Regions from separate parts of the Homo sapiens genome. Here regions 2, 3 and 4 are each reported to be linked to region 1. Evidence: microRNA targets listed by miRTarBase, many of them from high-throughput screens and not tested one by one. Region 1 holds a microRNA gene; each other region holds the end of a gene's coding sequence.
Evidence for each region. The annotated mature microRNA hsa-miR-8089 reads CCUGGGGACAGGGGAUUGGGGCAG and lies in region 1 at 1,579-1,602, shown strand. An mRNA with a match to its seed (bases 2 to 7 or 8) in the 3' UTR can be bound and repressed. Matches are read on the target gene's strand: a 7mer-m8 pairs with bases 2 to 8, a 7mer-A1 pairs with bases 2 to 7 and ends in A, and an 8mer does both.

Region 2: the mRNA of BMP7 is a reported target of hsa-miR-8089. Seed matches in the 3' UTR shown: 7mer-A1 at 1,783-1,789.
Region 3: the mRNA of LHFPL4 is a reported target of hsa-miR-8089. Seed matches in the 3' UTR shown: 7mer-m8 at 636-642, 7mer-m8 at 667-673 and 7mer-A1 at 1,254-1,260.
Region 4: the mRNA of INSIG2 is a reported target of hsa-miR-8089. The part of its 3' UTR that is shown has no 7-base or 8-base seed match.

The regions. Positions count from the first base shown.
Region 1 is chr5:181,041,896-181,045,014 of GRCh38, reverse strand. It overlaps MIR8089 (microRNA 8089), which reads left to right and starts at 1,531; the gene lies at 1,531-1,612. All of the region lies in intron 1 of BTNL9 (butyrophilin like 9), which reads right to left.
Region 2 is chr20:57,168,516-57,171,634 of GRCh38, reverse strand. BMP7 (bone morphogenetic protein 7) reads left to right here. Exons shown (of 7, transcript NM_001719.3): 7 at 527-2,882. The coding sequence ends at 676. Among named protein-coding and RNA genes, the nearest start is that of BMP7-AS1, 44 kb to the left of the region's middle.
Region 3 is chr3:9,499,420-9,502,538 of GRCh38, reverse strand. It overlaps LHFPL4 (LHFPL tetraspan subfamily member 4), which reads left to right. Exons shown (of 4, transcript NM_198560.3): 4 at 228-3,119. The coding sequence ends at 328. Among named protein-coding and RNA genes, the nearest start is that of LHFPL4, 53 kb to the left of the region's middle. RefSeq lists an enhancer at 488-1,213.
Region 4 is chr2:118,108,084-118,111,202 of GRCh38, reverse strand. It overlaps INSIG2 (insulin induced gene 2), which reads right to left. Exons shown (of 6, transcript NM_016133.4): 6 at 206-2,922. The coding sequence ends at 2,881. Among named protein-coding and RNA genes, the nearest start is that of INSIG2, 21 kb to the right of the region's middle.

The DNA of each region.
Region 1 (3,119 bases):
CTGGAACATCGAGTCCGCAAAACAGAGGAACAAACACAGAGTTCTGCTCTCTCAGAAGTGGAGTGCATGCAGGTGGCTGCCTGCCAGCCCCAACGACATCCTAGGACACTCTCCTCCAGGCCTGGGACCTCAAGTTGTGCCTTCAGGAGGCCAGCTGGTAACTGTCTCTGTGTCGATAGCATCTTCGGGGCTACAGTGATGGAGTCATCCCATCTAGCCACCCCTTCCTCATCTATGACCCAGGAGGCCCAGACCTGGCCCAGACAAGGGCTACCCCCTCACTCCTGATGCTCTGCTCCCTTGGGACCCACTAATGACTCACGGCCAGAGAGTGTGCTGCTGCCAATGAGTCTCTGGAGATACACAAAACTCTCCATATTTCTCTTGCATTTAGTTCTGCAAGATTTTAGGCAGATTCTGTCATTGGCTGGACCGAAATCTCTGCCTGAACCATGGAAGAAACCAATGCCCACTCCCATGGGTTGCTAGGAGCTCTTGAAATCAAAGTCAGCACCTCCCTTCCCCCTGCCTTCCCAACGCCCACGCACTGTCTTCGTCCTGGGACTGCACCCCTTGCCTTTCACTTCATCACAGTGCCCTTGTTGGAAGGCCACGGTGGGCTCCTCTCTCCAACCCTCTCTGTCTCCCCGTCGGCCCCCACGGCTTGGCTTTTCTTCCGAGACCTTGGCATGGCAGGTGTTTCCGGTGTCCTGTGGCCACAGGGCACTGGCCACACTGTCAGCAACACCATCAGCAGGTGTGAAGGAAGGACTTTCAAAGCTGCTGGGCCATGCAGAGGCAGAAGGATCAGAGGAGGTGTGCAGGGTGAGTTAATGAGGTGGTAGAGGCTCCCCAGGGACCCTTAGGCTAGGAGGCACCCAGACAGGCAGGAATACAAGGGAAGAGGGGTGGCCTGTGAGGCGCATGGGCTGATGGCCCTGTCTCCTAGAGCTAAAATTGAGGGGACAAACAGAGGACAGGTTGGGACAGCTCCAGGTGTGTTTCAAGAAGGTTCAAGGACAGGAGGTGGGGTCCCCCCGAAGCGGGGCCGTGTTGACACCTCTCAGTTATTGGAACACGATTCACACAATAACCAGCATGGGCAGAGGCCTCGGGCAGGGTCCAGGCCCTGGCTGGACAGTCCAGACTCTCACCCTCTGTGGCTACTGGTGGAAGCCTCTCTGCGACAGGTGGGGAAGCTGGCAAGGAAGGGTTCCAGCAAAGGGGTCTACACTGGTTGTGCACCTTCTCACCCTCTCTTCTGTTCCCTTCTCTTTTCCTTTATACTTCAGTCTTTTCTTCTGGATTCTAGACACAGGTTAGAGCTCCATGACAGCAAAACCAGGAGGGGCACGTCAGTGTTCAGCTAGTAACTTCCAAAACCAAGAGGGGCTCAGGGTGTGTTTATGCATCCATTCAGATGGGTTGGGTTCTGGGGAATTAGTCGAGGTTGTGTTAGGTTGTGACACAGGTCTGCTCATAAGGTGGTAATGGGGCGCGAGACAGGTCCCACAGCTGGCCTTCTCACAGAAGGAGCACTCACTCCAATTTCCCTGGACTGGGGGCAGGCTGCCACCTCCTGGGGACAGGGGATTGGGGCAGGATGTTCCAGAACCGTGGAAGTGCTAGAGGGACCTCAGTTCTCTGTTGTGATACACCCGTGTGATTCCCATCATGGAATCTTCAGGGGAGGAGGATTGTAGACACACACACACACACACAGACACACACACATGCACACACACACAGACACACCCATGCACACACACACAGACACACACATAGACACACACACAGATGCACACACACAGACACATACACACACACACACGTGCTGACAGTAATAAAACTAACATGCATTGGGTACTTCCTATCTATCAAACACTTATCTATACCTCAGTATTATTATTTTTATTATTATTATTACTAATAGGTCCAAATTATAGATAAGGAAACGGAGGCCCAGGAGCTGAGTGACTTGCTCCTGCACACAGTGGGTGAGTGGTGGGGTGGGGTTCCACCCACTGTCTGGTTCCAGAGCCTCGCTCTGCACTTCTCGAATTCAGATTCCTCACCAGCTACGTCGTGTGTCTGGGTACACCCTTCCGTCACTCCTGTTACCCAAAACCATGACCGTCTCAGGAACCAGCTGGCCACAGACCAAACACTCACCCTAACCTGCCATCACACAGAGGCACTGAAGAAGCGACCGGCTCACACGGTGCCAGCCACAAAACCAGCCAACCAGCCAACTAATGAATACAAAATTTAAAATCCCGCTGCCAGATAAAACAACTTAAAGCTGAGGTCTCCCTAAGACTTTGTCAAGAGCATCTTCTGAGCCAGGAGGAACAGGTACCTGGTCCCTTTGCTCCCAACACTCAAGGGTATCATCTTGAAAGCCTTTAGCAGAGAGAGATGGTCTGGCAGCTTCCTGAAGGGAAAAGTCAGCGGCTCCTGGACAGCACCCTCCTCCCCGTTTGCTGCTGTGCGTCCGCCCTTTCTGACCTCACTCTTCAGTTAAGGATCCAGGGTGCTCAATCCTTACTTGAAGCGTAAGTCCCCTCCTCGAAGGAAACACTTTCCACCCTCTGCTATTTTGATTACAGTGTAAATTGATTTCAGGTTGTTCCTGGTGAGGAGGTTTTGCCTGGGGAAGGAGTAAGGGACTGGACGCGTCGGATATTTGGGGAAGAAGGAAAACCCAGTGTGCGCAAGGACCACAAAGGGGTCCTCCAGCTGGAGCTGAGCTCTGCCGGCGGGCACGTGCTGCTTGTCCTCCCAGGAGCCTTGGGCTGCTCCCTCCGGAAGGCACAGGGAGAAATAAGGGGTCCTGAGAAATGTCACTGCCTGCACCCAGCAAAAGCCCATTTCTTTCTTCTCCTTCTCTTTTTATTTTTCTTTTCTTCTTGCTCTCTCATTGCCCCCAGCCCGCCCCACTCCTGTTCTCTCCTCCTGCACCTGCAATTCCTAAACAACCCTGATGTTTTTCTGATTTCCGGTCCCTCCGTCGAGTCTGTCTTTAAAGATGAGTACTTTTTGCTTTGCTACTGTTATTTTTTTAGATAATTTATTGTTAAATAAAGAATTTTAAAGCAAAATGCAGTGGGACAGATGTC
Region 2 (3,119 bases), not on the chromosome of region 1:
CTTAGGTTGAGTGGCGGCCTCTTCCCTTAGTTTGCCTTAGTCCCCACTATTCCCTATTGTCTTACCTCGGTCTATTTTGCTTATCAGTGGCACTCACGTGGCACTCATAGGCATTTGAGTCTATGTGTCCCTGTCCCACATCCTCTGTAAGGTGCAGAGAAGTCCATGAGCAAGATGGAGCACTTCTAGTGGGTCCAAGTCAGGGACACTATTCAGCAATCTACAGTGCACAGGGCAGTTCCCCAACAGAGAATTACCTGGTCCTGAATGTCGGATCTGGCCCCTTCCTTCCCCACTGTATAATGTGAAAACCTCTATGCTTTGGTTCCCTTGTCTGCAAAACAGGGATAATCCCAGAACTGAGTTGTCCATGTAAAGTGCTTAGAACAGGGAGTGCTTGGCTTGGGGAGTGTCACCTGCAGTCATTCATTATGCCCAGACAGGATGTTTCTTTATAGAAACGTGGAGGCCAGTTAGAACGACTCACCGCTTCTCACCACTGCCCATGTTTTGGTGTGTGTTTCAGGTCCACTTCATCAACCCGGAAACGGTGCCCAAGCCCTGCTGTGCGCCCACGCAGCTCAATGCCATCTCCGTCCTCTACTTCGATGACAGCTCCAACGTCATCCTGAAGAAATACAGAAACATGGTGGTCCGGGCCTGTGGCTGCCACTAGCTCCTCCGAGAATTCAGACCCTTTGGGGCCAAGTTTTTCTGGATCCTCCATTGCTCGCCTTGGCCAGGAACCAGCAGACCAACTGCCTTTTGTGAGACCTTCCCCTCCCTATCCCCAACTTTAAAGGTGTGAGAGTATTAGGAAACATGAGCAGCATATGGCTTTTGATCAGTTTTTCAGTGGCAGCATCCAATGAACAAGATCCTACAAGCTGTGCAGGCAAAACCTAGCAGGAAAAAAAAACAACGCATAAAGAAAAATGGCCGGGCCAGGTCATTGGCTGGGAAGTCTCAGCCATGCACGGACTCGTTTCCAGAGGTAATTATGAGCGCCTACCAGCCAGGCCACCCAGCCGTGGGAGGAAGGGGGCGTGGCAAGGGGTGGGCACATTGGTGTCTGTGCGAAAGGAAAATTGACCCGGAAGTTCCTGTAATAAATGTCACAATAAAACGAATGAATGAAAATGGTTAGGACGTTACAGATATATTTTCCTAAACAATTTATCCCCATTTCTCGGTTTATCCTGATGCGTAAACAGAAGCTGTGTCAAGTGGAGGGCGGGGAGGTCCCTCTCCATTCCCTACAGTTTTCATCCTGAGGCTTGCAGAGGCCCAGTGTTTACCGAGGTTTGCCCAAATCCAAGATCTAGTGGGAGGGGAAAGAGCAAATGTCTGCTCCGAGGAGGGCGGTGTGTTGATCTTTGGAGGAAAAATATGTTCTGTTGTTCAGCTGGATTTGCCGTGGCAGAAATGAAACTAGGTGTGTGAAATACCCGCAGACATTTGGGATTGGCTTTTCACCTCGCCCCAGTGGTAGTAAATCCATGTGAAATTGCAGAGGGGACAAGGACAGCAAGTAGGATGGAACTTGCAACTCAACCCTGTTGTTAAGAAGCACCAATGGGCCGGGCACAGTAGCTCCCACCTGTAATCCCAGCACTTTGGGAGGCTGAGGTGGGCGGATCATTTGAGGTCAGGAGTTCGAGACCAGCCTGGCCAACATGGTGAAACCCCATCTCTACTAAAAATACAAAAATTAGCCGGGCATGGTGGCACGCACCTGTAATCCCAGCTACTCTGGAGGCTGAGGCAGGAGAATTGCTTGAACCCCAGAGGTGGAGGTTGCAGTGAGCCAAGATCGTCCCACTGCACTCCAGCTTGGGTGACAAAACAAGACTCCATCTCAAAAGAAAAAAAAAACAGCACCAATGAAGCCTAGTTCTCCACGGGAGTGGGGTGAGCAGGAGCACTGCACATCGCCCCAGTGGACCCTCTGGTCTTTGTCTGCAGTGGCATTCCAAGGCTGGGCCCTGGCAAGGGCACCCGTGGCTGTCTCTTCATTTGCAGACCCTGATCAGAAGTCTCTGCAAACAAATTTGCTCCTTGAATTAAGGGGGAGATGGCATAATAGGAGGTCTGATGGGTGCAGGATGTGCTGGACTTACATTGCAAATAGAAGCCTTGTTGAGGGTGACATCCTAACCAAGTGTCCCGATTTGGAGGTGGCATTTCTGACGTGGCTCTTGGTGTAAGCCTGCCTTGCCTTGGCTGGTGAGTCCCATAAATAGTATGCACTCAGCCTCCGGCCACAAACACAAGGCCTAGGGGAGGGCTAGACTGTCTGCAAACGTTTTCTGCATCTGTAAAGAAAACAAGGTGATCGAAAACTGTGGCCATGTGGAACCCGGTCTTGTGGGGGACTGTTTCTCCATCTTGACTCAGACAGTTCCTGGAAACACCGGGGCTCTGTTTTTATTTTCTTTGATGTTTTTCTTCTTTAGTAGCTTGGGCTGCAGCCTCCACTCTCTAGTCACTGGGGAGGAGTATTTTTTGTTATGTTTGGTTTCATTTGCTGGCAGAGCTGGGGCTTTTTGTGTGATCCCTCTTGGTGTGAGTTTTCTGACCCAACCAGCCTCTGGTTAGCATCATTTGTACATTTAAACCTGTAAATAGTTGTTACAAAGCAAAGAGATTATTTATTTCCATCCAAAGCTCTTTTGAACACCCCCCCCCCTTTAATCCCTCGTTCAGGACGATGAGCTTGCTTTCCTTCAACCTGTTTGTTTTCTTATTTAAGACTATTTATTAATGGTTGGACCAATGTACTCACAGCTGTTGCGTCGAGCAGTCCTTAGTGAAAATTCTGTATAAATAGACAAAATGAAAAGGGTTTGACCTTGCAATAAAAGGAGACGTTTGGTTCTGGCTCTTTGGCCTGTGTCTGTCTGTGTGTGTTGTGTTTTTCTCTCAGTTCTTGGACACTGAAGTTCTCTCACACTGCTAAGAGCTCCCTGCCTTCGTCTCCACCGTGAACGCTCTGTTTAGCATCCAGGCCTTGCGGGGAAGTGGCCGCTCGTCAATATTTGGTGCAGCTGTGTGGGGCTCCGGGCAGGAGAGATGGAACCAAGCAACACATGTGAATTTGGTAGGCTCGACTACAAAGG
Region 3 (3,119 bases), not on the chromosome of region 1:
GTAAAGACAGGGTTGTGCCATGTTGATCAGGCTGGTCTTGAACTCCTGACCTCAAGTGATCCACCCGCCTCAGCCTCCCAAAGTGCTGGGATTACAGGCGTCAGCCACCGCGCCCGGCCCCTCTGCCCACTTGTGCCCTGGGGAATGTGCAAGGAAAGCCTGAATGCCCAGGCAGCCTCTGACTTTCTCTAATTCTCTCTCCTTCTCTCTCTCTCTCTCTCTCTTAGATTTTGTGGGCTCTACAGTAAGCTCCGTGTTGCGGCCCGGGGGTGATGTCTCTGGATGGGGAGTCCTTCCCTGCCCCGTGGCTCACTCACAGGGACCCTGAAAGGCCAGGATCACAGCCCAGTAATTGGCCTGACCTCAGCTTGTCCTGCCTTCTGCCCTCTCGTCACTCCATTCAAGCTCTGAGGGAAGACCCTGATCTCAGACTTACTTCTCACCGACTACCCTGCAAGCTCCAGGCTTTGAGGAGAGGAAAGCCTGGATGTGGCCTGGGGGAGAGGAGAGGCCCTCCAAACCTTGGGAGGGTCTAATTCTTGCTCCTCCCTCAATTTGACCTAAGGGAGCCTGCATCTGCGTAGGCCCTTGGGCTTCTCCTCTCCTCTCTAGACTGGCCTGGAGGTCCCTGCAGATCCCCAGGGAGAGCGGAGCTGTAGTTCCAGCTCCCCAGGCCCCCTCAGTCTGGAGGGCTGCCGCCTGGCTGTATCCGCACCTCTTCTGGTCCCTGCCTCTTCAAGAAATTTATTCTAGATACTGCTCCAGGGTGGGCTGGACTCTTTCCTACTTTTTTTTTTTTTCTTTTTTGGCTGATGTTGGTTCCACCACATCTGCCACAAAGCTCCAGGTGCCACCAGTCTCCCCTGGGACCTCCTCTGCTCCATTCCGGCCTGCTCCCAGCTCACCCTGAGGGAGAGCTGCACCGAGGGATGCACAGGGCCCTGCTGTCAGCTGCAGACCGGGGCCCTGATCAGCCCAGAGTCAGAAAAGACTTTCAGGCTCTGGAGGTAGCGGGAGGGGGTACGTGGCCTCGGCAGTTGGAGCTTAGAAGCTGCTCAGCCCGGGCTGGCCTGGCCTCCTCTTCCTCTCTGCTGGAACATCTCACTGATGACTGAGCCCTTGACCTTGGCCTCTTTTGCCCAGGCCTCCTCTCTGCTGGGATGTCTCACCAATGACTGGACCCTTGACCCTGGCCTGTTTTGTACAGCACAGACTTCTTGGCCCTGTTGTCAGGGTTGGGGGTGTGGAGGGGACCCCAGAGGTGGGGAGTTGGGGGATGCATTACCCCTTCTGCCCCTTTTCATGCCCTCCATACCCCAGGCGTCTACCAAGGGCAGAGACTGTCTTGTCTCTTTGATACTTTTCTGCATAACTTGAACTTGCAGGTCATCTCTGAACAGGGTACCCCTGTCCCCCTTCCTAAGCCTTGTTACCCTGTCCCAGCCTCTTCCTCCTCCTGGCCCACCTCTCGCCTTGCGATATGCCCAGGGTCTGCACCTATGGGCAGTGCTTGGAGCCGAGGCATGAGTGTATGTGTATGTGGGTGAAATGTGTGTGCGTGTGTGTGCGCGTGTGAGCGTGTGTGTGTGTGTGTGTGTTGGGGGACAGGTGAGAAGTTTCTCCCCCCTCCACCCACTGTGGGGGCGTCTCCCTTCCCCTTGGCAGGGAGCAGGTGAGGGAGACTCCTGGTATTTTTTGAACACCCGTCATTCCCCTGTGGGTCTGGCGGCAGAGCCATCTCTCCCGGGGAGCCTCCCTGCCCTGGGGCCTGGACAGCTCCCTCAGCACTAGTTGCTGGTGCAGACCGGCTTCGTCCAGCGCCCCCTCCTGGCGGCCTGGACCTGCAGGGAAGGGGCGGTGCCCTGCAGGATGCCAGGGGAAGCCGCCTCGGGCCTCGGCGGAGGGGAGAGGGTCGCTTGAGCGCCATGTGTTTGCCAACCTTGTGTTCATTTCCACAGGACTTGGACCTGAGAGTTAGGGTTTCCAAGAAAGACCCTAGAAGTCCCCTGCCTGTCTCCCCACTCTGGACCCTAGCCGGAATCAGATGTTGGGACCTAGTGGGTTCCTGCCACCTGGAACTTACCAAGTCCCGACTTCACTCCTCCACTTACTCCTCCCGGGCAAAGCCTCCCCGCAGTGCTCTGGTCCCAGCGCTGGGCTCCCCTTCCCCGCCGGCGCCTTCCCGGACAGTCCAGTCGGCCTGGGGTAGGGGCGCTGCGGGACAGAGGGTCCGAGTTAAATGCGGGAGGATGCGGGAGCCCCGTGGGAGGGAGTTGGGGTAGGAGGGAGTTCCTCAAAGATGCAAACCAAGCCCAGCGTTGGAGGGGGAGAGCAGAGTTAGGAGAGAGTGAGGGGAGGGGCGCAGCAAGCGACTGGGAATGGGAGAAGACACTGGGGTGAGGAGAAGAGGGGTGCAGAGACAGGGAGATGAGAGATGATTGGAGAAGGAGCGAGGGGGACGCACAGGCACAGAGAAACAGCGCGAGGAGGAGAGATCGAGAGAGACGGGGCAGAGGTGGAGAGAGATGAGAGACCAGCTGAGAGGCTGCCCGAGAGCTTGGGGTGGGGGAGGGGAAATGGATGAAAAGGCGGAAAAAGGACTCGGGAGCGGGGAAGAGGTAAATGGAGATGTGGGTTGGGGGCAAGAATGGGATGCAGAGGAAGGAGAGGAGGATGAAGGAGCCAGGATGCGGGGCAGTGGGGAGGGGGTTGCTATCTGGGCACTGGGTGAGGGGAGAGCTTGTTCCCCCAAGGACGCCTGCCACCAGGTGTCCTTGCCACACCTTGTTCCCCAAGGACACCCACCAAACCTGTGCCCTGGTGCGGGGGATAGAACTGACCTTTCAGAGGCTGGAGGCCCGGGGCACAGGCAGCCAAGGCCGCATCCTTTTGGGAAGAACTGGAGTGAAGGAAGCCACTTCAGAGGACGTAGTGGGTCCAGCTGACTTAGGAGTGGGTCAGCGCCGGGTGGAGAGGAGGGAGGCTAGTTCCCTGGTGGGGTAGCCTGGCAACATTCCCATTCCACCGCACCTGGCCAGCTGCCATCTTGGCAGAGCCAGGGGGAGATGCACCAGGGAGTTTGGAGTCAGGAAGGCAGAGTTGTGTGGGCTGAAGTCTGC
Region 4 (3,119 bases), not on the chromosome of region 1:
TGACAGAAGACAATGAGTTAAAAATCTTCAAAGTGCTGAGGGAGGGAAAAAAACTATGAACATAGAATCCTACAGCCTGCTAAATTATTCTTCAGAATGAAACAGACCTTTTCAGACACACAAAGCTAAGACTCTACTACTCAGACCATCACTGGAAGAATTACCTTACACAGAATATACTTCATTATAAAGGTAACTGAGCCAATAGGATTACAGAAGTATTTATTGGTATTAACCAAGTCTGACTTCTACCTGGAAAATACAAGATGTATGAAACATATGCATCATTGAGAGGTCCCAATGGCCTTAAAGAAGGTAAAACAGCTCAGTGCAAATAAATAAATTTTACATTAAAAGTTTTAGCAGGGCTCTGGCTAATTTGAATTGTTTTCTTGCACTTTTGTAGAATTTATCCCCAGTTTTCAACTGTGCAAATTTCCATAACTTGAAATAATAAAAGAAAGCACTGCCAATCTAGCAATGTTAAAAAATGTTTCCCATTTTCTTTCATTGAAAAAAATAGGTTCTATACATTTATATATTTATCAAAATTTCAAAACAATTTTATTTTTTGCTATAATTATCTTATTTTCTAGAGGACCTGAAAATAATTTAAGAACACCAACGATAATCATTCAGTCTCACCGATACCACACACAGTTGACCCTTGAACAGCATGGTTTTCAGCTGTGTGGGCCCACTAATAATGCACATCTTCTTCCACCCCCGCAACAGCAAGACCAACCCCTCCTCCTCCTCCTCCTCAGCCTACTACTCAGCATGAAGATAGCATGAGTGAAGACTTTTAGGATGGTCCACTTCCACTGAATGAAGAGTAAACACATTTTCTTTTCCTTAGCTTACACTATTGTAAGAAAACAGTATATAATACATATACCATACACAATATGTGTTCATCAACTGTTTCTTATTGGTAAGGCTTCCCATCAAGAGTAGGCTATTAGTAGTTAAGTTTTGGAGGAGTCAAAAGTTATACATGGATTTTCAACTATGTTGGGGAGTGGTGCCCCTAACTCCTGTTGTTCAAGGGTCAACTATATTTAGTTTCTTTTCATCGTTTCTTGGTAACTTCAACCACATATGTTAATTTCATTAGATTAATCCACAGTACCATATTCTAAGACTTACCACAAAGAAGAAAAACAGACTCTTAACCCAGATGATAATTACATATTTAATACGTGTTGCTTTTAACAGCAATTTTTAAAGTAAACACATCATAGACCTTATAACTTATTAAAGATTTTATAGTGCTTACAAAGTTGATTCTAAAAAATATACCTTATTTGTTCTAAATGAATAACATTATCTGGAAGATATAATAATAAATTATAGTAGTATGTTTTCCACCACGATAGTTAAGATTGTGTACACATATTCAATATGAAATCCTCTTAGGATTTTCACACCTTCAGCCTGAAAACATAAAAGCAGATTAAAGTTTGGCATACAAGATCTCAGTCTGATAGTAATTGCTTTAAAACTCAAAGTGTAAAAATATCTACTTGACATTCTAGGAAAGCATGGCCACATGCACAGACACATTCTCTCACTCACTCCAACACACACGTGTGCACACATACTCACACCCCAGAGTACTCAGAAGATCTTGCCCTTGTGGATCAGACAACTGCCACCAATTTCAAAAACTAATGGAAAAAATTAGCTAAGAATATGTTTAAACCATACTTAAGAGGTGCTGGTTGCCATTAAGATCTTTAACATGCAGAGAATGCCATCTCAATACACTCTTAAACAGACTTGAACTATTCACTAATGGATACACGAATACATGAGAAATTATGTATTCATCCACCCCCAAGACTGCATGTAAGATGAAAAACCTAGGCATTCCACCAACGAGTCATATGACTGAACCCAGCTAAAGCTACAGTGGTTTGCTTCACAGAACCCAATAGAAGACAGAACCCAACAGATTTAGAAACCTCATTGTGATCTGTTTGGAGTTTCCTATATGCTCCATGTGCAAAAGCAATGAGATTCTGTATTGCAGATGACAGCTAATATCACTTTGCACTTTTGTGACACTGCAAGAGGTCACTGTATTTCCAAAACATGTATTTATTCTAATTAAATCCTCTAATGTTCCTTACTTTTAATTATATATACTGTTCCAAATTTAGAACCAAAACAATTTAATGCTGATAACCTCTTCTGCTCATCACATATACTTCCAGTAAAACCTGTCAAAACAGAAAATTACTCTTTGGGCTGTCTCCAGTAACGCAGGTTTGAAACCAGAAGTTCATTTTCACCCTGTATCAAAACACTCCAAACTCTATGAAACAACATTAAATTAGAAACTAACCACAAATTAGGGCACTCATAACTCATACTGCTGTGATTAGAAAAATAAAAAGGCACAACAGTAAGCTAAAGAGAAAATACCAGCTCCCCATATGCTTTTTGTTTGTTTGTTTTTGGCTTTCCTCTTATTTTATTTCACTAAGTCTACAAATTGTTCAAAGCATTCTTATACTCTGCATGACAGGAACAATATCTTGGCACATTAACATTGTGATACAATGTATGGCATGTTTTAAAAAATTAATTTAAAAATTTCATCTATTAATCAACACTTTTTAATGTAGTACATATATATCTTACAGTTATTTAAGTCAAATATGTAAAGGTTTACAACTGATTTACAGATGAAGCAATCACAGATTGCAGTAATATGTGTGTGTGTATATATATATTTATCCATATATACACACACGCCAATCAAGGGGAAAACTGCATCCTGGCAATTTTACAGTCTGAAGTTTTGTTGGTATATCTACCATTTCACATCCTTTTCATCTTGCTTTTCTGTACAAAAGATATTTTTTGCCTTCTTCATTCCTGATGAGATTTTTCTGCGATAACTTTACATTCGTACTGCAAAAATTAAAAGGTTAAAAGGTTAACAGATTAAGACTTCTTTTGAATAGCAACTTCCAAATAAACTGAAAAGCTCTAAAAATGAACATTTTATTACTATGTGCCCATTTATTCCTCAAATAATCCAAGAGTTACATAATTACTATGATTAAATGACAAATGTGACAGGGAAAAAAATAATTCACATTCTGGAA